2 linked regions of the Homo sapiens genome follow. The protein of the gene in region 1 interacts with the protein of each later gene in a pairwise test. Each region holds a gene or a part of one and is shown on either strand. Other genes may lie near its edges. The genes, in order: RCCD1 and KDM8.

Region 1 (10,996 bases):
GTTTGGGGGTTTGGGGACTACCTGGCCCTCCATGAGCCTGTTGTGGCTGTGCACCCTGTGGAAGCTGGTCTTCCTCCCTGGGGCACTCAGTCCTGGATTTCTCCATCCCATAAGGATTTGGCTGTGGCTGAAGCACCTGTCCTCTCCCCACATGCCTCTCAACTCCACCTGCAGAGGGCTTCTTTGTGCGACATGGAAGGAAACAGAGCCATTCTCAGTGTGGCCTGGGAAGGGGTGGGGCCCACGACTGTCCAGCGGCCAGCGCATCAGTGTCTGCAGATGCTGTGTCATGCGGCCACCCCAGTAGCTGATTTTCTTGCCACATGCTCTAGGTGGTGGTCTGGAGGGAGAGGGTGCTGATTTGTCTGTGTAGCTTCCAGGGGGCCATGGCAGAGTGCCAGGGAGGGAGTCCAAGCCAGGTGTGGAGGAGCTCAGCTCCTGCCTCCTTCCCCAGAGGCCAACTGGTCTTGCCCTCTTCCTCCAGGGACTCTGTAAGCTCGGTTCGGCTGGAGGGACTGACTTCAGCATGAAGCAGTTTGCTGAAGGCTCCACTCTCAAACTGGCTAAGCAGTGTCGAAAGTGAGTCATCTGGCCTTGCTGTGGTTCCCCACCTGTGGGGTAGATCTCAAGACACAGGGGTCTGGGTGGGGGTTGGGGCCTCCTCCGTCCTGCTCTCTGGCTCAGGCAGGGGCTGCAGTCTGGATCCTGGTACGTGAACTGCTTCTGTACATTGAGGGGATGCCCAAACCCTTGGTTTTTCCCCCTTGGCCTTGGTGTACCCCTCCGTACCCCCAATCCTGAGGGTCGTCCACTATCCTGCGTGTCCCCAGGTGGCTGTGCAATGACCAGATCGACGCAGGCACTCGGCGCTGGGCAGTGGAGGGCCTGGCTTACCTGACCTTTGATGCCGACGTGAAGGAAGAGTTTGTGGAGGATGCGGCTGCTCTGAAAGCTCTGTTCCAGCTCAGCAGGGTAGCTCTGTGGTTCCTGCCGTCAGCCTGGGGACACTGTCTAGGATTAGACCTTACCAGGCTTTCTCGGCAGGGCTTGGCCAATGGGGTCTTTTGACCCCAGGGAAGAGGGCTGGTGGCTGAGTGGCTGCTCTGTGTAGTGTGGGCATGTTGGCCAGCACCAGTGGTGTTAGCAAGGACGTTCTTCTTGGAGGAGCTGGGGAGGTCAAGTTTGTAAGCTCCCAAAGTCTGGGGCCTGGGAGTTTCCCGAATTCATCCTGTACCCAAGGGTCCCAGCTGAGGGTGGAATTGGGGGCCTGGGCCTGGGCAGCATTTATCTGAGTACTGCTCTGCCCCGGGATGCCCATGTGAATTCCTCTGTGTCCTGGCAGTTGGAGGAGAGGTCAGTGCTCTTTGCGGTGGCCTCAGCGCTGGTGAACTGCACCAACAGCTATGACTACGAGGAGCCCGACCCCAAGATGGTGGAGCTGGCCAAGTATGCCAAGCAGCATGTGCCCGAGCAGCACCCCAAGGTGAGGGGCCGCCAGAGGGGCTAGAGGGTTCCCCACCATGGGGACAGCTAACCCAGGGCATCCACAGCAGAACAACCTCCCTTTTTTTTTTTTTTTTTTTTTGAGATGGAGTCTCACTGTCTCCCAGGCTGGAGTGCAGTGATGCGATCTCGGCTCACTGCAAGCTCCGCCTCCCGGGTTCATGCCATTCTCCTGCCTCAGCCTCCCGAGTAGCTGGGACTACAGGTGCCCGCCACCATGCCTGGCTAATTTTTTGTATTTTTAGTGGAGACAGTGTTTCACCGTGTTAGCCAGGATGATCTCGATCTCCTGACCTCGTGATCCGCCTGCCTCAGCCTCCCAAAGTGCTGGGATTACAGGTGTGAGCCACCGTGCCCAGCCAACAGCCTCCCTTTTAAGCCAGTTTGTTTCCTTTTGTCTGGCTGTTTTATTTCCCAGTTCCTCAATTACTGCTGTGAGAAGGGTCCCCCTTTCTCTGTGAGTCAGCCTAGGCCCCTCTCCTAAGCTGCCTCCTCCCCCAGGACAAGCCAAGCTTCGTGCGGGCTCGGGTGAAGAAGCTGCTGGCAGCGGGTGTGGTGTCGGCCATGGTGTGCATGGTGAAGACGGAGAGCCCTGTGCTGACCAGTTCCTGCAGAGAGCTGCTCTCCAGGTGAGCCAGCCTTGGTAGGAGCCAACCTTTCCCAACTCCTGAGCCTCAGGGCTGCAGATGTGGCTCCAGAGGGTGCAGGTTCCAGTGCTGTGGGCCTCTTAGAGCGACGGGGGCTGCCTGCGTGGCTGCCGTCTTTGCTGAGCCTAGGAGTGCAGCGTCTGCCTGCCAGAGTCCCAGAGCTGCCTGCCCACCACCGCCTTCTCCCCACAGGGTCTTCTTGGCTTTAGTGGAAGAGGTAGAGGACCGAGGCACTGTGGTTGCCCAGGGAGGCGGCAGGGTAAGCTGGTTTACACACCCCTTCCTGATGGCTGAGCCATCAGCCTATAAAACATGACTCAGCAGCTGCCACGCCAGAGCTGGGTGTTAGATATGGAACAGAAAAACATTAATGGCCAGAGGAACACCGTCCCGCTGAGAGAGTGACGCGGAAGCAGGCAAGCTCCTTGGCCCCTCCACACTGGTGCCTGTGAAGGTCCTAGGCTCTACTGTTCCTTTGTCTCATTTACCCCCATGGCCCTGGTGCTCAGCACAATCCATGTCCAGCCCTTATTAGGTGTTTCAGGAAGTGTTTGGATGCAGAGGGTCTGCACAGGGAGTCAAGCCTGGGGAGAGGGAGGAAGGTGAGGGTGGCACGGTCAGGGCTGGGGAGCCCGATGGTCGGGGTCTTACTCCCAGGGATGTCCTGAGCAGTGACGGGCTTGTTCCTACAGGCGCTGATCCCGCTGGCCCTGGAAGGCACGGACGTGGGGCAGACAAAGGCAGCCCAGGCCCTTGCCAAGCTCACCATCACCTCCAACCCGGAGATGACCTTCCCTGGCGAGCGGGTACGTGTCTTCCTGCCCCGGCCTTTCCACTCCCTCTGTCCCTGATGGCCTGTGGGCTGGGCTGTAGCTCCCCTTTGGGACCAGCAGGAAGTTTCAGCTTTGTCAAGGCCTGGGGCAGGGAGGACAGCCTGAGACAGCAGTACTCTCTTGGGGGTGGGCTTCTCCCTGCAGGGTTGGTGGGGCTTGTGGGGGCTGCGGCAAGTACCCCTGACAGGTGGGGTGCACATTGCAGATCTATGAGGTGGTCCGGCCCCTCGTCTCCCTGTTGCACCTCAACTGCTCAGGCCTGCAGAACTTCGAGGCGCTCATGGCCCTAACAAACCTGGCTGGGATCAGCGAGAGGCTCCGGTAAGGTCCCTTGGGATTGCGGGGCCTGGACCAGGCATCGGGATTCGGAATATCCCCCACAGCAGTTTACACATTGGGAAACACTCCTTGGTCATGGGCTTCTGTGAGCCTCACAGTGACTGCTCCGCATCATTAGAGAGGAGGCGACAGGCCAAGAGGCAGCACGGCACGGCAGACTCTAGAGTCAGACTGCCTCGCTTCCCTGATTGCAAATGGGCAACCTCAAGCAAGTTACTTAACTGCTCTGTCTCAGTTTCTCCCTCTGTGAAATGGGATGATTATAGTACCTACCTCATGGCATAGTGATGAGGAGAATAAAATGAGAAAATACACCTAAAAGTACTTACTACATGGGTACCTGGCCCCTAGCATTGTGCCATATCAGTATATTTTAGTTTTTTTTTTTCTTTGAGACGGAGTCTTGCTCTGTCACCCAGCCTAGAGGGCAGTGGCATGATCTCAGCTCACCGCAACCTCTGCCTCCCAGGTTCAAGCGATTCTCCTGCCTCAGCCTCCTGAGTAGCTGGGATTATAGGCACGTGCTACCGCGCCTGGCTAATTTTTGTATTTTTGTAGAGATGGCGCTTTACCATGTTGGTCAGGCTGGTCTAGATCTCCTGACCTCGTGATCCGCCCACCTCAGCCTCCCAAAGTGCTGGGATTACAGGTGTGAGCCACTGCAGCTGGCCAGCATGTTTTAGTTTTATTACTAACTGTGACTTTGAACATATTACTCATTACTTAGCCCGTTTCCTATTCTGCAAAACAGTAGTGATGATGATCACACTTGCACCTTTAGTATAGGGCCATGGTGAGAATTAAGTAAGATGATCCAGGTGCCTGGTCAGGGTAAATACTCAAATGAGGCCGGGCGTGGTGGCTCACACCTGTAATCCTGGCAATTTGGGAGGATGAGGCAGGAGGATCACTGGAGCCCAGAAGTTCAGGCCAGCCTGAGCAGTGTAGCAATACCTCGTCCCTATTTAAAAAAGAAATTAAAGAGAATATCAGGAAGAATAGCTAATGCATGCTGGGCTTAATACCTGGGTGATGGGATGATCTGTGCGGTAAACCACAACGGCACATGGTTACCTGTGTAACAAACCTGCACGTCCTGCACATGTACCCCTGAACTTAACAGTTGGAAAAAAAATTTGCAAGGTGTGGTGGCGTGCACCTGTAGTCCCAGCTACTCGAGAGGCTGAGGCAGGAGGATCACTTGAGCCTGGGGGGGTCAAGGCTACAGCAGTGAGCTGTGATCATGCCACTTTACTCCAGCCTAGGTGACAGAGTGAGATCCTGCCTCAAAAAAACACAGAAACAAAAACCCTCAAATGTTAGGTGTTAGCCTCACCATCACGACCACCCTGGTCTTCTACATCCTAATTTTGAGCATTTCCCACAATCCTATGCTATTTCCTAGGCCTGGTTAGAAGGCTAAGAAGCACTGTAGTTCATACCTGGTGCAAGAGGGTCCTTGGACATTGCCAAGGGAAATCCTCAGCCCAGGACTTGATTGCATGAGGGTGTGGGTGCAGGGGTGGAGCAGATGTAGAAACTCTGATGATGCTGCCGGTGTTAGTCTGTTCTTGCATTGCTGTAAAGGAATACCTGAGACTGGGTAATTTATAAAGAAAAGAGATTTAATTGCTTCCTGGCTCTACAGGCTGTGTAAGCATGGCATTGGCATTTGCTCAGCTTCTGGGGAGGCCTCAGAGAGCTTTTACTCATAGTAGAAGGCAAAGCAGGAGCAGGCACATCACATGGTGAAAGTAGGAGCAAGAGACAGTCGGGGGAGGTGCCACACACTTTTTTTTTTTTTGAAATGGAGTCTCCCTCTGTTGCCCAGGCTGGAGTGCAGTGGCGCAATCTTGGCTCACTGCAACCTTCACCTCCTGGGTTCAATCGCTTCTCCTGCCTCAGCCTCCCTGAGTAGCTGGGACTACAGGCGCGCACCAGCATACCCAGCTAATTTTTTTTTGTCTTTTTAGTAGAGACAAGGTTTCACCATGTTGGCCAGGCTGGTCTCGAACTCTTGACCTCAAGTCATCTGCCTGCCTCGGCCTTCCAGAGTGCTGGGATTACAGGCGTGAGCCTCCACGCCCGGCCGAGATGCCACGCACTTTTAAATAACCAGATCTCACGAGAACTTACTATCACGAGGATAGCACCAAGCCATGAGGGACCCATCCCATGACCCAGTCACCTCCCACCAGGCCCTACCTCCAACATTGGGGATTATAGTTCAACATGAGGGTTAGAAGGGAAAACATCCAAACCGTATCCCTGCTGCTTCCTCCTGTGGCCCTGCAGGCAGAAGATCCTGAAGGAGAAGGCTGTGCCCATGATAGAAGGCTACATGTTTGAGGAGCATGAGATGATCCGCCGGGCAGCCACGGAGTGCATGTGTAACTTGGCCATGAGCAAGGAGGTGAGGGTTGGTCTGGGTGCTCATGACAGGCGGGGATGCAGAGGTACCTGTGCCCTGGCTGGGCTTTACACCCAACTGACTTGGTCCACTCCTCACATCTGGCCACAGGTGCAGGACCTCTTCGAAGCCCAGGGCAATGACCGACTGAAGCTGCTGGTGCTGTACAGTGGAGAGGATGATGAGCTGCTACAGCGGGCAGCTGCCGGGGGCTTGGCCATGCTTACCTCCATGCGGCCCACGCTCTGCAGCCGCATTCCCCAAGTGGTCAGTGCCTCTTCTCAGTGGGGGAGGAGGGACGGACCAGGAACTCCCAGCAGCAGCTGAAGGGGGCAGTCCTAGGGTGTGTGGGTGTGTCCCTTGCCAAGGTTGAGCCTGTTGCCCAGGGGTCATATCTACCCTGTTTTTCTCACAGACCACACACTGGCTGGAGATCCTGCAGGCCCTGCTTCTGAGCTCCAACCAGGAGCTGCAGCACCGGGGTGCTGTGGTGGTGCTGAACATGGTGGAGGCCTCGAGGGAGATTGCCAGCACCCTGATGGAGAGTGAGATGATGGAGATCTTGTCAGTGCTAGCTAAGGGTGACCACAGCCCTGTCACAAGGGCTGCTGCAGCCTGCCTGGACAAAGCAGTGGAATATGGGCTTATCCAACCCAACCAAGATGGAGAGTGAGGGGGTTGTCCCTGGGCCCAAGGCTCATGCACACGCTACCTATTGTGGCACGGAGAGTAAGGACGGAAGCAGCTTTGGCTGGTGGTGGCTGGCATGCCCAATACTCTTGCCCATCCTCGCTTGCTGCCCTAGGATGTCCTCTGTTCTGAGTCAGCGGCCACGTTCAGTCACACAGCCCTGCTTGGCCAGCACTGCCTGCAGCCTCACTCAGAGGGGCCCTTTTTCTGTACTACTGTAGTCAGCTGGGAATGGGGAAGGTGCATCCCAACACAGCCTGTGGATCCTGGGGCATCTGGAAGGGCGCACACATCAGCAGCCTCACCAGCTGTGAGCCTGCTATCAGGCCTGCCCCTCCAATAAAAGTGTGTAGAACTCCACTGTGTGCCCTGTCCTTGGGCAGGGAGGGCTGCTGTGAGTGGGAGTCTCTGAGTGGGTGAGTGTGGGTGAGTATGGGTGTGAGCTGGGCGTGGGTGAGTGTGCAACGGAGCTTCACAGTGGCAGACCCACCTCCATGGAAGGAATCCAATGGATTCCCCAACCAGGGCCCACTGAGTTGCTTCTTAATCCTACTGGAGGGACAAAGGGTAAGCCTAGGAAGCTAATCAATAAGAAACTCACCAGGTGCGGTGCCTCAAGCTTGTAATCCCAGCGCTTTGGGAGGCTGAGGCAGGTGGATCACTTGAAGTCAGGGGTTCGAGACCAGCCTGGGCAACAAGCAAAACTCTTTCTCTATAAAAATACCAAAAAAAAAAAAAAAAAAAAAAAAAGAGCAGAGTGTGGCGGCATGCACCTGTAATCCCAGCTACTCGGTAGGCGAAGGTTGCAGTGAGCCCAGAGCGCAGCCTCCCAAAGTGTCGCCTGGGCGACACAGCGAGACCCTATCTCAAAAAATATTAAACTATCCCAAGAAATAAGTCGTTTAGGGTAGAGACTCCCATATGCTGGGCCTTCAGTACGTTTGTCTTTATATTGGGAGTCCTCTGTGGCCTCCGCTGAGGGCGCTGGGGCGGGGGTTGGGGTTGGTGGCCAGCTGAGCCTGGTTGAAGGGCGGCTTGGGCCCCGCCCACCACCCCAGCACGTTCGAGGAGGGCTAAGCCCAGCGTGAGGCTCGTTGGCTCGACAGAGGCACGTGACGGGTCCTGAGCCAATCCGTGGAAGGTAAAAGCTGCTTCCTGTTGGGGCATGAGTCCGGCGCGTGTCGGGTTTTGAGCTGCCGCGGTCCCGGGACTGAGGTGGGTGGCGGGGTCCGCCCGTCTTGGGCGTCACTCCTCGCCAAACCTTTAGCTCAAGTCTTAATGAATGTCCTCTCTGTGGTTCTAATCCGAGCTCCAGCCCCACGGGTTCCTGCAGGGGCGGGACCACCTGGCCCAACCTCTGCCTTGGTCCAACGCCCCCGGTTTCCTCCAGGGCCTTGGTCCAACGCCCCTCGGAGGTTTCAGCCCATTTCACAGACCGGGCCGCAGGGCCCCGGCGTAGGCCTCGGGACCGGAGAGGCCCTCAAGGGGAGTTGAACAGGGCTGCGGCCGCCGCGCCCCGGGCGGCGACGTCACCGCCCTTGCTGGTGATTGGCCGCCTCGCGCCGCGCGCCCTTCAAACCTTTTCTCCCCGTGGCTGTCGGCGCCCGCTGGGCGGGAGGCCTTTCCGGAGGCGGCCGCTCTGCGCCTCGGCGTTTCCTCCAAGGCTGCCCACCAGAAGGACCTGCCCGAGAGGGTAGAGGGCATAGGGTCAAGATCAAGGTCAGAGGCCCCCTTGGGTTGGGAGAGGACACGGAAGGGGTTAGGAGCCCAGGAACTGGGGTCTCAGGAGAGACCCAGGATCTGACTTAAGAGGCCTGAAAATGCCCATGCAATTCTGCTTCAGCCCGGGTGCAGCGGCTCACGCCTGTAATCCCAACGCTTTGGGAGGCCGAGGCGGGCGGATCACTCGAGCCCAGGAATTTGAGACCAGCCTGGGCAGCATAGCGAGACCCCTGTCTCTATTATATTAAAAAAAAAAAAAAACAAACCCGCTCCAGCCGAATCTGCTTGAAGTTGGCGTTGCTGTTGTAACCACCAGACTGTTTGTCTCCCCATTTAACGGTTAGCTCCTTGGGAGCAGACAGCTGTCCTCACTGGCAGAGGAGGAGCGCTCAGTAAATGCTCGCTGGACGAATAAATGGCTAGATAAGGTACAGTTGAAATTCTGTCTGTATAAGTTTCTCAAAACCAGTAAGATGTCCAGGGATAATTTTTTTGTCAACACTAAATACTGGATTCAGTAAGCTAATACTGTGTGTTTATCATGGCATGTACTCGCACCAAACCCTTTATTTGCATTTATTACAATTCTGTGAGGAAGGTTCAAACAGCACCGCCCCCACCTCCCTTTGTAAACTGAAGAAACGCAGTTGGACTCAGGTGGATTGGCTGCGGTCCCAAGGCCCCGCTGAGTTGCAGAGGCACTGCCTCCCAAACGCTCTTCTGCGTTCCGCTGTGGGGAGAGGGGCAGAGCACTGTGTGTGGAGTTGGTGGGACCTGATTTCAGCGCTCTGCCCCTCTCTGTCTGGCTGTATGAGTGTGTAAGGGTTACTTTGTCTCAGAATCTCCTCTGTAAAACGACCATTTTGGTTCCCAAGATTACATGGGATAAAGTGCCAGATGCTGGGAAGCTGCGGGACGGGGTGGGGGTGTCGGGGGCGCTCGGATCCTAGTCCAATGCCTAAAGGACAGGCCACTTCGTACCCACTTTGTGGCACGCTGAGCTTGAGCCAAAAGGGAGGACAGGGAAAGTGCCTCTAAATATTTGAGCATCTTTGTAAATCCGGTAGGGCATTAGTCAGGGCGCCTGCTCAGCGAACCTTCGTGGCACGGACTCTGCCTTTGTGGTCGGGAGAATGATAGTTTCTCCATTTTACAGATAAGGCAGCTCCAGCCCCTGGAAGGCCAGAGACTTGCCAGTGTCCCACTAGCGGGCTCTTCGCAAGAATCCCCCCGGGCCCGCCGCAGCCAGGCGGCGGCCGGCAGAGGGCGCTGCTCGGGCATGGCGGAGGAGCGGCCGGGGGCCTGGTTCGGCTTCGGTTTCTGCGGCTTCGGGCAGGAGCTGGGCTCCGGACGCGGGCGCCAGGTGCACAGCCCCAGTCCGCTGCGGGCGGGCGTCGACATCTGCCGCGTGAGCGCGAGCTGGAGCTACACCGCTTTCGTGACCCGTGAGCACTCCCCGCCCCGTCCCCACTTATTCCAGCCGCGCTCCCCAGTCGCCTCCCCGCACCGCTGTGGCCAGTCCAGTTTGTCTCCCCCGTTCAGGCCGCCAGCCCCACATTCTGGGTTGGTCCCCAATTCGACCCCTTCCCAGGAACACCCCGCTCCCCCCATCCCCGCCGCCTCCATTCTGGCCACCCTGCTCCAATCCGCCCCGCAGGTGGAGGCCGCTTGGAGCTGTCGGGCTCAGCCAGCGGCGCGGCGGGCCGCTGCAAGGACGCGTGGGCCTCGGAGGGGCTCCTCGCGGTGCTGCGCGCCGGGCCGGGGCCGGAGGCGTTACTGCAGGTCTGGGCGGCCGAATCGGCGCTGCGTGGGGAGCCATTGTGGGCCCAGAATGTGGTGCCCGAGGCCGAAGGGGAAGACGATCCGGCCGGTGAGGCCCAGGCTGGGAGGCTACCCCTGCTGCCCTGCGCCCGTGCCTACGTGAGCCCGCGGGCGCCCTTCTACCGGCCTCTGGCTCCGGAGCTGCGGGCACGCCAGCTGGAGCTGGGCGCCGAGCACGCGTTGCTGCTGGACGCTGCTGGCCAGGTGTTCTCCTGGGGCGGGGGCAGGTGAGCGGAGGCGGGGGCAGGTGAGGGCTGCTGATTGGAGAAGCAAGCGGAGCGGGACCCCTTAATGCGACTGTAGCTGACGACGGTCTCCCTTGCTCAGGCATGGACAGCTGGGCCATGGGACCCTGGAGGCAGAGCTGGAGCCACGGCTGTTGGAGGCGTTGCAGGGCCTAGTCATGGCTGAGGTGGCCGCGGGGGGCTGGCATTCTGTGTGTGTGAGTGGTGAGTGACTTAGTGCTTCTCCAGACGAGCTCATGATCTTGTGCAAACCTTCCTCCTCGTTTTCCAGTTTGGGTGGGGGCCTACCCAGGCCTCCTTCCAAATTCATCCATCCATCGCCCAGTCAGTTATGACTCCTAAATGCCTCTCACCCTCGGCCTCCTCTGCCTGCACCATGGCCCACTCACGCCTGGACTCTGGCATTTGTTCCTAGCTTCTCTGTTACTGGTCTCACTGCCCCTCCCCTCCTCTCCCCACCTGCTCCCAGCCAGGACTGTCTCTTAACAGTGCTGCCGAGGGAGTATGGAGTGTGAGGGGGCAGCTGAGCCAAGGAAAACGCAGAAACGCTGCAGTTGCCTAGGGGGCCATGATGTGTGGCACAGGGTGGACACTGGGGTGCCCACCAGGCACCAGGATGGTGATGAGTGTGTCCCTGTGGTGGTGCCACAGCTGGCCAGAGTGAGGAGTTTCACTTGGTGATCCAGGTGTAGCTCCTTCCTAGGCTGTTAGAGCCCATGCAGAGAGGGTGAGGCTGGGAACAGATGATCTTTGTCTGTGTCTGGGGCTCTCATTCTGGCTGCTACG
Region 2 (11,832 bases), on another chromosome or scaffold:
AATCCCAGCCTCAAGCAATCCTCCTACTTCAGCCTCCCACAGTGCTGAAATAACAGGTGTGAGCTGCTGCACCCAGTGTATTTATTAATATTACATCTTTAATTGTCTAGGACTGTGAGTTCCTAAAATCTAACTCAGATCATGTCACTCTTCTGTTCAAAACCCTCCAAGGGCTTCCCATTTCACCCATAACAAAAGCCTAAATCCTAACGACATCCGGTAAAGCCCTACAAGAGTTACCCCCAAGTTATCTCTCTGACGTCATCAGCTTCTACTCCCCAGCTTTTGCTCCCCACCACCAACCACGATGACCTCTGTGCTCCTTCTTTAGATGCCCAGCACACCTGCTGTTCCCTGTGCCTGGAACTGTCTTCCCACACATGGCCCCATATGACTTACTCTCTCACCTCCTTCAGGTTGCAGCTCAGGTGTCACCTTATCAGAGAGGATTTGAGCACTCCATGCAAACCAGCAGCCCTCACCACACACACATATAGCACCATTGTCCCCCTTCCCCTGCTTGAGTCATAATATATATAACAATGCACATAATTTTCTAATTTCCTGTTTCCCGCCACTAGAACATGGGCAGGGATTTGTGTGTTTGTCCACTGCAAAAATCGCACCAAAATTTGACATCATCCTTCATCCATACCCAAGCCTTCTGACATGTGACTTAAAGCCTCTCCCATCAAGTAATAGATTCTCTGTCAGCTGCCGTAACTCATTCCTGTAATCCCGGCACTTTGGGAGACTGAGGCAGGGGGACCACTTGAAGCCAGGAGTTTGAGACCAGCCTGGGTAACATAGTCTGGGTAACACTTCTCCAGGCATCGGCTACATTTCCAAAAATGTGGGTGCCATCTCCCTCTGTGTTTTCTGGAAAGCTAGTGAAAATGCAAAACCCTGGCCAGGCTGCTGGCTGGTAGCTGGACCTGACTCCAGAACTACTGAATCGAAATATCCAGAAGCAGTACCCAAGAACCTATATTTTAAGAATTTCCACACTGCCCACAGGGGTCCTTGGACACAGAACCGGAAGGGCAGCCTGTGCCATTACCAGCAGGTGAGTGGAGGGTTGGAATAAATAGATTCTGGGACAGAGGGAAGAACAGAGAGTGTAGCTTGAGACATTTAACTGCCTTATCTAACCATCACTACCTCCTGGGGAGGTCGGTTATCATACTGTGAAAGGAAAATAAATCTCAGGATCCCAAAATCACTAAGCCAAAGGGAAAAGTCAAGCTGGGAACGGCTTAGGGCAAACCTGCCTCCTATTCCATTCCTAAAGAAGATGGCTAGTAAGATAAAAAAGCTACATACCTCCTCACAATTTGTCCACAAGGGATTTTCTTATGGACTCAGGACAGACAGAACTCACAGTCACCCCTCCGCTCACTGAGAGAAATGCATATCTGATGGATTCCTTTGGAAAGGCTAATCAGAAACTCAAAAGAATGCAACAATTTGTCACTTATCCACCTATGACCTGGAAGCCCCTTCCCTCCTTCGAGTTGTCCTGCCTTTCCAGACCAAACCAATGTACATCTCACACATATTGATTGATGTCTCATGTCTCCCTAGAATGGATAAAACTAAGCTGTGCCCCAACCACCTTCGGCACATGTCATCAGGACCTCCTGAGGCTGTGTCACAGGCCCGTCCTTAACTTTGGCAAAATAAACTTCCTAAATCGACTGAGACCTGTCTCGGCTATTTAGGGTTCACAATACCTATTTCATGAAGACGACATAGAAGTTAAGAAGAAATCACTTATGCAGATAGCCTTTTACCCTTGTAAAAGGCCTTTCTTTTTCATGAAAAGCAGCCCCAAATCATTTTCTAACAAAGAGCAGCCTGTAAAGTTGAGCTGCAGATATAGACAAGCAAGCTGGGAGCTTGCATGGGTGAATGAGGGCAGGAACTAACAACTAGACATTTTCAAGATGGTGGCTCCATCTTCCCTTCTCTGCCAGCCACATGTACTGTAAGAAGCAGACAAGATGGCGCTGATCAACTGGAAAGCCCATTTGCATAATAAGATTAGGGTGAGGTGACTAGCCTTCTGCACGCACTATGTAAACGTCACACTTGATCTAACCAATCTATGAGCCCCATGTAAATCAGACACCGCCTCCTCAAACTGGACTATAAAATTTGCGCATTTGCTGCCAACCAGTCTTTCCCACTGAGACACCCCTTCCTCGATAGAGGAAGCTGTTTCTCTTTCTCTCCTCTTCTACCTATTAAACCTCCGCTCCTAACCTCCTCATGTGTGTCCATGTCCTAAATTTTCCTGGCTGCAACAATGAACCCCAGGGTATATATCCCAGACAACATAGCCACTTCAGAGGTGGACACTGAGGCTCAGACAGAAAGTATCCCGGTCTGCCTTACTTTATGTTGGGGGCTATTTGCTTGTACCCCAGGGGAACCCACTCAACAAAACACCTGGTATTTTGCTCTGAGTCTTCACGCAAGGTCATTTTAGGCTTGCTAGCTCCCGGCTGAAGGTCACATGCTGAAATGAAATTGAAAGCACAGAATAACTAAGTGAGCAGACCCTCCACCTGGAAAATCCAGGTGGCATCAGTGGAAGAGCCAAGACATGGGAGGTTTTCATGTCTATTTTTAAGCAATTGAAGTAAATTAAATGTCTCTTTCATGGCCAAGCTACACGTTGTTTGCAAGTTTGGAGCTTTGTTTGTATGTATATATTTTAAATAAATTTGATAATTAAGTCACGAATGCTCCCAGCACACTTGGATATATTTAAATTACAGGCTTCTGATCAAATGGAGAAAAATCACAAATATGGGCCTAAATGATGCCTTTTTCTGTTCAGTGGCTTTTGCAGCATTCAAATGGGTCTGTCAGCTTAATGGCCAATTCTAAGGCTGCTGGGAATGACAGGAGGTGGAGGGACTGGCAAAGAGACTACAGGAAGTGAAACCCTGTGGTGAAAAATTGTGGTTCTTTTAAGAAAACATTTCATCTGCGCCTGTAATTCATTTCAACAAGCCAGTTTTGAAAACACAAACAAGCTGGTAAAAGGGGTGTTTGTCTCTGCCTGACTGGCAGCACTCCATACCCACCATTAACAGCCAGTTCCTGAACACTGTGGCTTCTGGAATCAGGGGGTCCCAGGTCAAATCTCCTTTGGTCCTTGCTGTGGTGCCTGTCTGGGCAAGTTGGAGATTCTAGTGCCCGCCCTACTGTAGTCTCTGTAGAGTAACTGCCCATCCACTGTCAAAACAAATTCAGATCTAGTAAAGAGTGGCTTTTCCCATCCCTATGTCCTGAATGGTATTGCCTAGGTTTTCTTCTACAGCTTCTATGGTTTTAGGTCTTATGTTTAAGTCTTTAATCCATCTTGAATTAATTTTTGTATAAGGTGTAAGGTAGAGATCCAGTTTCAGCTTTCTGCATATGGCTAGCCAGTTTTCGCAGCACGATTTATTAAATAGGGAATCCTTTCCCCATTGCTTGTTTTTGTCAGGTGTGTCAAAGATCAGATAGTTGTAGATGTGTGGTGTTATTTCTGAGGCCTCTGTTCTGTTCCATTGGTCTATATATCTGTTTTGGTACCAGTACCATGCTGTTTTGGTTACTATAGCCTTGTAGTACAGTTTGAAGTCAGGTAGCATGATGCCTCCAGCTTTGTTCTTTTTGCTTAGGATTGTCTTGGCTATGCAGGCTCTTTTTTGGTTCCACATGAAGTTTAAAGTAGTTTTTTCCAATTCTGTGAAGAAAGTCAGTGGTGGCTTGATGGGGATAGCATTGAATCTATAAATTACTTTGGGCAGTATGGCCATTTTCATGATATTGATTCTTCCTATCCATGAGCATGGAATGTTCTTGCATTTGTTTGTGTCCTCTTTTATTTCCTTGAGCAGTGGTTTGTAGTTCTCCTTGAAGAGGTCCTTCACATCCCTTGTAAGTTGGATTCCTAGGTATTTTATTGAATGGGAGTTCACTCATGATTTGACTCTCGGTTTGTCTGGTATTGGTGTATAGGAATGCTTGTGATTTTTGTACATTCTACTATAAAGACACATGCACACGTATGTTTTTTGCAGCACTGTTCACAATAGCAACCAACCCAAATGCCCATCAATGATAGACTGGATAAAGAAAATGTGGCACATATGCACCATGGAATACTATGCAGCCATAAAAAAGGATGAGTTCATGTCCTTTGCAAGGACATGGATGAAAATGGAAACCATCATTCTCAGCAAAGTAACACAAGAAGAGAAAACCAAACACCACATGTCCTCAATCATAAGTGAGAGTTGAACAATGAGAACACGTAGACACAGGGAGGGGAACATCACACACTAGGGCCTGGCAGGGGGTGGGGTCCTGGGGGAGGGATGGCATTAGGAGAAATACCTAAGGCAAATGACAAGTTGATGGGTGTAGCAAACCAACATGGCACATGTATACGTATGTAACAAACCTGCACGCTGTGCACATGTAAACCAAAACTTAAAGTATAATTTTAAAAAAATAAAAAAGAAAAATCCTATTTGAAGGAAACAAAAAAGAGTGGCTTTATTTGAAAGGATTATTGCAAGGTGCAGGAGGGACTTTTTTTTCTTTTTTTTTTGAGACGGAGTCTCGCTCTGTCATCCAGGCTGGAGTGCGGTGTCTCGGCCCACTGCAAGCTCCGCCTCCCAGGTTCACACCATTCTCCTGCCTCAGCCTCCCGAGTAGCTGGGACTACAGGTGCCCGTGACCACACCCGGGTAATTTTTTGTATTTTTAGTAGAGACGGGGTTTCACTGTGTTAGCCAGGATGGTCTCAATCTCCTGACCTCGTGATCCGCCCGCCTCGGCCTCCCAAAGTGCTGGGATTACAGGTGTGAGCCACCACGCCTGGCCAGGAGGGACTATTATAACAGGGGAAGGGAGACTTGCAAAAGAGAGTACACTGTGGCCACAAGGGTTAGGCCAAAAAGAGCTTTTCTTTCATAGGAAGAAGAAAACAAGGCTAGAAAGAACCTGGAAGTGGGGTGAAAGGGTGACATGATGGGTTAGTAGATCAGAGAATATATCAACCTGAGGCCAGCCTATTCTGAGGAGGGGCTGTCTGCTGGCCCAGGCCCAGGGTGAGCCAAAGTTCAGGGGCCTGGAGGAAGGAAAGAATCTTAACCAAAGTGGTTGACCAGCGTTTTATAAGGATTGATTAGTGGGACAAGCAGTTCAGGTAATCACTTATAAGACAATGAATGAGAATTGGAGGGTCTGTGTCCTGTTTACCTGCTCTCACAGGTAAACAATGGGGGTGGTGTCTTGGAGTCTTATCTAAATTCTCTTGTGGGGGTGGGGGGTGATTCTTTGCAGTAAACTTTTTTCCACAACACAAAAGGGTGAGAGCAATTCCTTTTTACTTTTTTCCGGGGACACAAGACTCAGGGAAAATTCAACATTGTCACTACTCAAGGGTGGAAACTTAGTGTAGCACATAACCATGAGGATTCTAAACCTGTGGCTGCTGAGTTCAAACACCAGCATCCCAGTGAGCCTGGTGGGTTAGGAGATCTTTCTGTGCTTTACTTGCTCCCTCCCTGATATGGTTTGGCTGTGTCCCCACCCAAATCTCATCTTGAATTGTAGCTCCCATAATTCCGTGTTGCGGAAGGGCCCAGTAGGAGATAACTGAATGATAGGGGAGGTTCCCCTCATACTGTTCTCCTGGTAGTGAATATGACTCATGAGATCTGATGGTTTTATAAGCGGTTTCCCTTTTCACTTGGTTCTCATTATCTCGTCTTCCACCATGTAAAACGTGCCTTTCACCTTCCACCATGATTTTGAGGCCTCCCCAGCCATGTGGAACTGTGAATCCATTAAACCTTTTTGTTTGTAAATTGCCCAGTCTCGGGTATGTCTTTATCAGCAGCATGAAAGCGGACTAATACACTCCCTAAAATGGGGATGAGCATGATCATTACAATAGCTACGATCCTCATATTTTTAAAGTATTTTAGCACCGTACCTAGAATCCACTAATCTATGAACTGATCCTGAGCAAGCCTGTTTCCTACTCAGACCCCAAGCTCAGTACGAACATAACTTTCCATGCCTCTGTGCAATGCTGCAAAAGGCGTGCATACTTGGAGTCCACAGGAGTGTGTGCTCAAAACACAAAAGTCCCAGTGACCACGCACCACTCGGCATCAAAGCAAAGGTGGCAGGAGTGTGTCCCCTGGCCACTTGCCTTCTCACTCGAACAGACTGTGGATGCAGCACTTGCTCGTGGGTAATTGTGGATCTGACTTTCCAAAAGTACAAGTATGTGGCCACTTTAATCACTGAGCCTCAGTTTCGCTCTCTGTAAAATAGGGAGAACTAATAATCCTAGCTGCAGAGATTAAATGGTGGATGCAAACAGCCTTGTACGAAGTTGTTATCTGTGCAGAGGAAAAAGCGGTATCACTAGCGTGGAAGGACCCAGAGGATACAGCCAAGCCTTTCTGTCTTCTCCATCCCCCGGCCTTTTAAACAGCAGTGGGGCGGGGCCACGGCATCGATCACTCGGCGCTCCTCCAGGCACTGCGTCGTGATCAGACGAGCGGTGAGCGATCGATACTCCTATGCTAGCCTCTGGCTCCTCAGGGGACACAGCCGAGTGGTCGGACCAAACGCAACGAGTCTTCGCCAGCCCAAAGGCGACTCGACACCGTCCCAGCTGAAGAGAGGTTAGTCTGAGCAACTCGAGAGCGGAGTCAGCTCCAGTTCCTCAGAAGTGGAGAGGCCGGGTTCAGAGGCATAGACCGCGCAGGCGTCATGTGAAGCAGCCAAGCCCGGCCTCGCGCGTGCGCCTTGGAAAACCCCGAGGGTGGCTCGAGTTGCCGCATGCGCTCTGAGAATGCAATTTAGCTCGTCGCCGGCCTGCCCTGCGGGAGGATAAAGGGAAAGGTTCCGCGCGTGCGTATGCTCGTCTCTTGGCAGTGGTTTTGCGCATGCGTGAGGGCAGGCCCTTACGGCGGGCTGCTGTGCGCTTTAGCGGTTCTTGGCGTCGCGTTGGTGTAGGCCTAGTGCGCCTGCGCGGGTTTTATACTCTGCTATATGTGTGTCCGCTGCTTTTAGGCAACCAGCCGCTGCCCCTGGGCCGCAAGGCAGGCTGGAAACGATTCCGCCGTCAGGTCCCAAATATGAGCCGCGAGAAATGCAGCCCCGGGGAAGGCGCTGAGGAGGGAAGGGGGTCTGAGGCCTCGGGGCTCAAGGCCAGTGCGGGGTACGGGGGACCCTCTGGGGCCTGGGTGTGTGACTGCCCTAAGGAAAGGTGCTTGTAGCTCGGTAGGACTTAACGATGGGCATCGGTGCGTTTCCCGGCAACGGTAGGAATCGCCGTGCTCAGGAGGACTCGGGAGCAAGCCCGGGGACAGGAGGTGCGCAGGCGTTGGGGCCACACGGACGACCCAAACACAAGACTGTGTGCCCCTTAGAGAGCCAAAGGGATCCCTGTGCCATGAATTAAAGCTTTCTGGAAAATGTTCCAAACTTTCCTGGGAAGTTTTACGAAGCTCTTGTTTTTGCACAATTTTTGTGGAATACTGCCATAATAACATTGAGGAGATTAGAGAACTGGACCGCCTGTTCCCAGAAAGCTAGGTGTAGGCTGATCTGTCCTGGAAGCCCCTTTTGGGAGGCTTTCTCATGACCAGCATGGTGCTTGCAGAGTGCCCACCCTGAGACCCTCTGCAAATCACAGTGAGGCTCTCGGAGAGGCCATTCCACCCAGCCACCTTAAAGAATACTCAGGGAGGTGCTTTAGAGGAGTTGATGTTTAAAAATAATTTAAGGCTGGGCGCGGTGCCTCACACCTGTAATCCCAGCCCTTTGGGAGGCCGAGACAGGCCGATCACTTCAGGTCAGGAGTTCACAAGACCAGCCTGACCAACATGGCGCAACCCCGTCTCTACTAAAAATAAAAAATTAGCTGAGTGTGGTGGTGCACATCTGTAATCACAGCTGCTTGGGCGGCTGAGGCAGGAGAATTGCTTGAACCTGGGAAGCGGAGGTTGCAGTGAGCCAAGATTGGGCCAGTGCACTCCAGCCTGGGTGACAGAGCGAGACTCCGTCTCAAAAAAAATAATAAAAATAATTTGAGAGAATCCTAGGATGACAGGGCAGTGGCTTCCAAGAGGGATATATCCCATAACCTACCAGGGACCTACTTTGCCAGTTTGCATAGTGAATTCTGCCTGGATGGTGAATTTATAAAGTCCAGGCCTGAGTCTATTCCGGCTGTTTTATACAGGTTATACTTGGCTCCTTTTTGTTTAGTACGACCAACAAGAAGGCTTTTATAAGATTCATTTTAGTCTTATTTATAAATCCAGGAGAAAAACCACTCAGAGGTTAGCACATAACAGCCTATATTCTGACCTTCTTTGCAAGATCATTTCATACACCAGCAGACAAGACTTTATGTAAGGAGCATTTAGGGGCTGAATCAAGTCCACTCAAAAGCTGTTTTATGCAACCCACACTTGATCTCCCCCTGAAAGCTGTTCCAGGTTATGAGGCCAGTTCACAAAGCCAGGACATAAGCCCACTCAAGCTGTTTCTATACCTGACCGCCCCCCTCCCCACAAAAATAAATAAAGCCTTCTCTGGGCCGGGCGTGGCGGCTCACACCTGTAATCTGAGCACTTTGGGAAGCCAAGCAGATCACCCTGAGGTCAGGAGTTCAAAACCAGCCTGGGCAACAGAGTGAAACCCCGTCTCTACTAAAAATAGAAAAACTAGCCAGGCACAGTGGCGGGCACCTGTAATCCCAGCTACTCAGAAGGCAGAGGCAGGAGAATTGCTTGAACTTGAGAGGCAGAGGTTGCAGTGAGGCGGGATCGCACCATTGCACTCCAGCCTGAGTGACAGAAAGACTCTGTCTCAAAAAAAATAAAAATAAAAAAACCTTCTGTGATCAACAAGAGGTCTTTGAAGGCCAATACCTGTTGAGCTCTGGGAGACTGATTTGTAAAGTGAAGATACGAGGCCACTCAGGCTTTTTGATATGGCCCACATTTGGGTTACGGTAGGTGTCAGTTTGCCTAGAATAACACCAGTTTTTTACTGATGCAGACATAAATATTAATAGCATCTTGGTTTGGATGACCCACCTATACCTGGCCACTAGAAGGCTATCTGTACAACTCCCAATAAACCCTTTTATGTAGAGCTCTCGAAGGCCAGTCTGTGGCACCACTCTCAAAGACTGCTTCACACATCTTTTTTCTTCTTGCAGGGAACTGGCAAGTCACACATCTTATTCTTGACTCCCTCCTTTGGAAGCCTGTTTGTTTAATGTAAGCCTTTTGTGTGCGTGTGCTTTTTTTTTTTTTCGGGAGGGACAGACTCTTGCTCTGTCACCCAAGCTGGAGTGCAGTGGCTAGATCTCAGCTCACCCCAACCTCTGCCTCCCAGGTTCAAGCAATTCTCCTACCTCAGCCTCCCGAGTAGCTGGGATTATAGGCGTGGACCACCACGCTGGCTAATTTTTGTATTTTTATTAGAGATGGGTTTTCACCATGTTGGCCAGGCTGGTCTCGAGCTCCTGACCTCAGGTCATCCACCCTCCTCAGCCTCCCAAAGTGCTAGGATGACAGGCGTGAGCGATGCACGTGGCCTTAATATAAGACTTTATAAACAGCAATTCAGTGAGGAGTTCTGGGAAGCCAATCAATAAAGCCAGGCCATAAGGCTACTCTGGCTAGTCCTTTCCTCTAGAAAACCTCTTGATACAACAAGAAGCCTTTTTATCAGACCAGTATATGGGAAATGCCAGAAGGCTGATGAGCCTGGACCTGAGGCCATTCAGAAAGGCAGTGACCTGTGGCTCGCACCTGACCTTCCCAGGAGGGCCATCTCAAGTGGTTGGTGGTGTGAAGGCTGCTTCTCATAGCCCATGAGGCCAGTGACCCTGGAAGATTGTTTCATACAGCCAGCAAGAGAGTGTTTCCCCAGCCAGACCAAGACTCCTTCTGTAAGGCCATTTTGCATGGCTAACAGGAGCCAATGTGAGGCTGCTCCCAGCGGGGTAGATGGACACAACAAACAATTCTTTCCTGGCACAATGAAGAAACCACAGATCGATTTGTAAAACTAAGACAAAATCTGACTTCACCTGGTCCTCAGACAAGCCCCCATCTATAGGAAGGCCAGTTTTTAAAACAAGTTACAAGGGCCGGGCGTGGTGGCTCACACCTGTAATCCCGGCACTTTAGGAGGCTGAGGTGGGTGGATCACTTGTGGTCAGGAGTTGGAGACCAGCCTGGCCAACATGGCGAAACCCCGTCTCTACTAAAAATACAAAAATTAGTCGGGCGTGATGGCATGCGTGCCTGTGGTCCCAGCTACTCAGAGGCTGAGGCAGGAGAATCACTTGAACCTGGGAGGTGGAGTTTGCAGTGAGCCGAGATCGCATCACTGCACTCCAGACTGGGTGACAGAGCAAGACTCCATCTCACAAAACTGCTTTGGAAGACTGCTTCCTATACCAGGATGTGGCTGTTTGATATGGTAACTACATAAAAGGCCAAATCATGAGAGGTTTGGGGAAGCCTATGCAACAAGGCAGAAGACTGATGCGGCCAGAATGCCACTTCACCATGCTGCCAACATAAGGCCTTGTAGGAGGCTATAGTTTTATTTTTTGAAACAGGGTCTCACTCTGTCACCCAGATGGGAGTGCAGAGGCACAAACACAGTTCACTTGCAGCCTTAAACTCCTGAGCTCAAGCAATCTTCCTGCTTCAGCTCCCGGAGTAGCTGGGGCTACAGGTGTGTGCCACCATGACCAGCTAACTAATTTTTTAATTGTTTTTAGAGACAGGGTCTTTACATGTTGCCCAGGCTGGTCTCGAATTCTTGGGCTCAAGCAGTCCTCCTGTTTCAGACTCCCGAGTAGCTGGGATTATAGGTGCCCTGCTGGGGGATAGTGTATAATAATCTTGAGGCCTTTGGGGAGGCCATTTCAAGTGGCTTATACAGAGGCAATCTGAAAAGCCATTTTGAAAACAAACTTATACAGCCATCCTGAAGCCTCTGTCTCTGGAAAACCATCATATATTGTCAACGTAAGTATCTCTGAAGGCCTTTTGATAAGGCCGTTCATTGAAGAACTCTGCATTAAAGAATAATCATAAGGCTATTTCATGTGGCCAAGAGCAGATAGTTTTGTACAGCCAACTCACAGTATTAGGAGGCCATCTTTCCCAGAAGGCTGTGTCCATTGGCCTTCAACATGAGGTCTCCAAGGCCGATTTGCAAAGTAGCAGATAGGCCGCCTATGAAGACCAAACATGAGGCCACCCTGGGAGGCCAGGTGACAAAGCAGACACGGGGCCACTGGGGGAACCTGGCTACAAAGCCGCACACGTGAGGCCACCTTGAGAAGCTGGCTTGGTAAGGCTGATAGGCGCCCTGTGAGGGGCCGTTTTATAAGGTCACCCTGAAACACCAATTTACAAAGCCCGTAATCTGCATTGCAGAGAACAGGTTTATAGCCCATTTGAAACCCTCTGGGAGGCTGTTTTCTAAGGCCATCAAGAGACAGGTTTACAAAGCTGGTACATAGAGCCCCAGTGGAAGCCAGTTTTATAGTAGGGCAATAAATGGTCTCCTGGGAGGCCTTTCCACTGGCCTTTATGAGAAGCCAGGATATGAGGCCCCTGAGGTCTTTTGGATGCTCAAGATGAGACTTCTCCATGTTGCTCTATAAGATTCATGTAAGCCACACACGGGATGAGCCAGGAGGCCACCCAGGGAGGCCAGGGATGGGCCCATGTGGTGTCTTGTGCTGGCCTAGTGGATAAGTCC

The links.
Region 2: the proteins of RCCD1 (region 1) and KDM8 interact in binary tests that used the Homo sapiens proteins (3 or more experiments, as listed by UniProt).

Annotation. Positions count from the first base shown.
Region 1 is NC_000015.10:90,947,312-90,958,307, forward strand, and holds the start of RCCD1 (RCC1 domain-containing protein 1), read left to right. Parts: upstream 1-7,572; 5' UTR 7,573-7,637; exon of another isoform or gene 7,638-8,572; intron 8,573-9,300; 5' UTR 9,301-9,423; coding exon 9,424-9,589; intron 9,590-9,801; coding exon 9,802-10,192; intron 10,193-10,292; coding exon 10,293-10,414; intron 10,415-10,996. Other genes in the region: UNC45A (protein unc-45 homolog A), read left to right, coding at 485-579, 831-972, 1,343-1,483, 2,005-2,132, 2,343-2,409, 2,843-2,956, 3,189-3,304, 5,618-5,735 and 2 more. UniProt on the Homo sapiens protein: Plays a role in transcriptional repression of satellite repeats, possibly by regulating H3K36 methylation levels in centromeric regions together with KDM8.
Region 2 is NC_000016.10:27,196,930-27,208,761, forward strand, and holds the start of KDM8 (bifunctional peptidase and arginyl-hydroxylase JMJD5), read left to right. Parts: upstream 1-6,596; 5' UTR 6,597-6,707; intron 6,708-7,045; exon of another isoform or gene 7,046-7,163; coding exon of another isoform or gene 7,164-7,246; intron 7,247-11,832. UniProt on the Homo sapiens protein: Bifunctional enzyme that acts both as an endopeptidase and 2-oxoglutarate-dependent monooxygenase.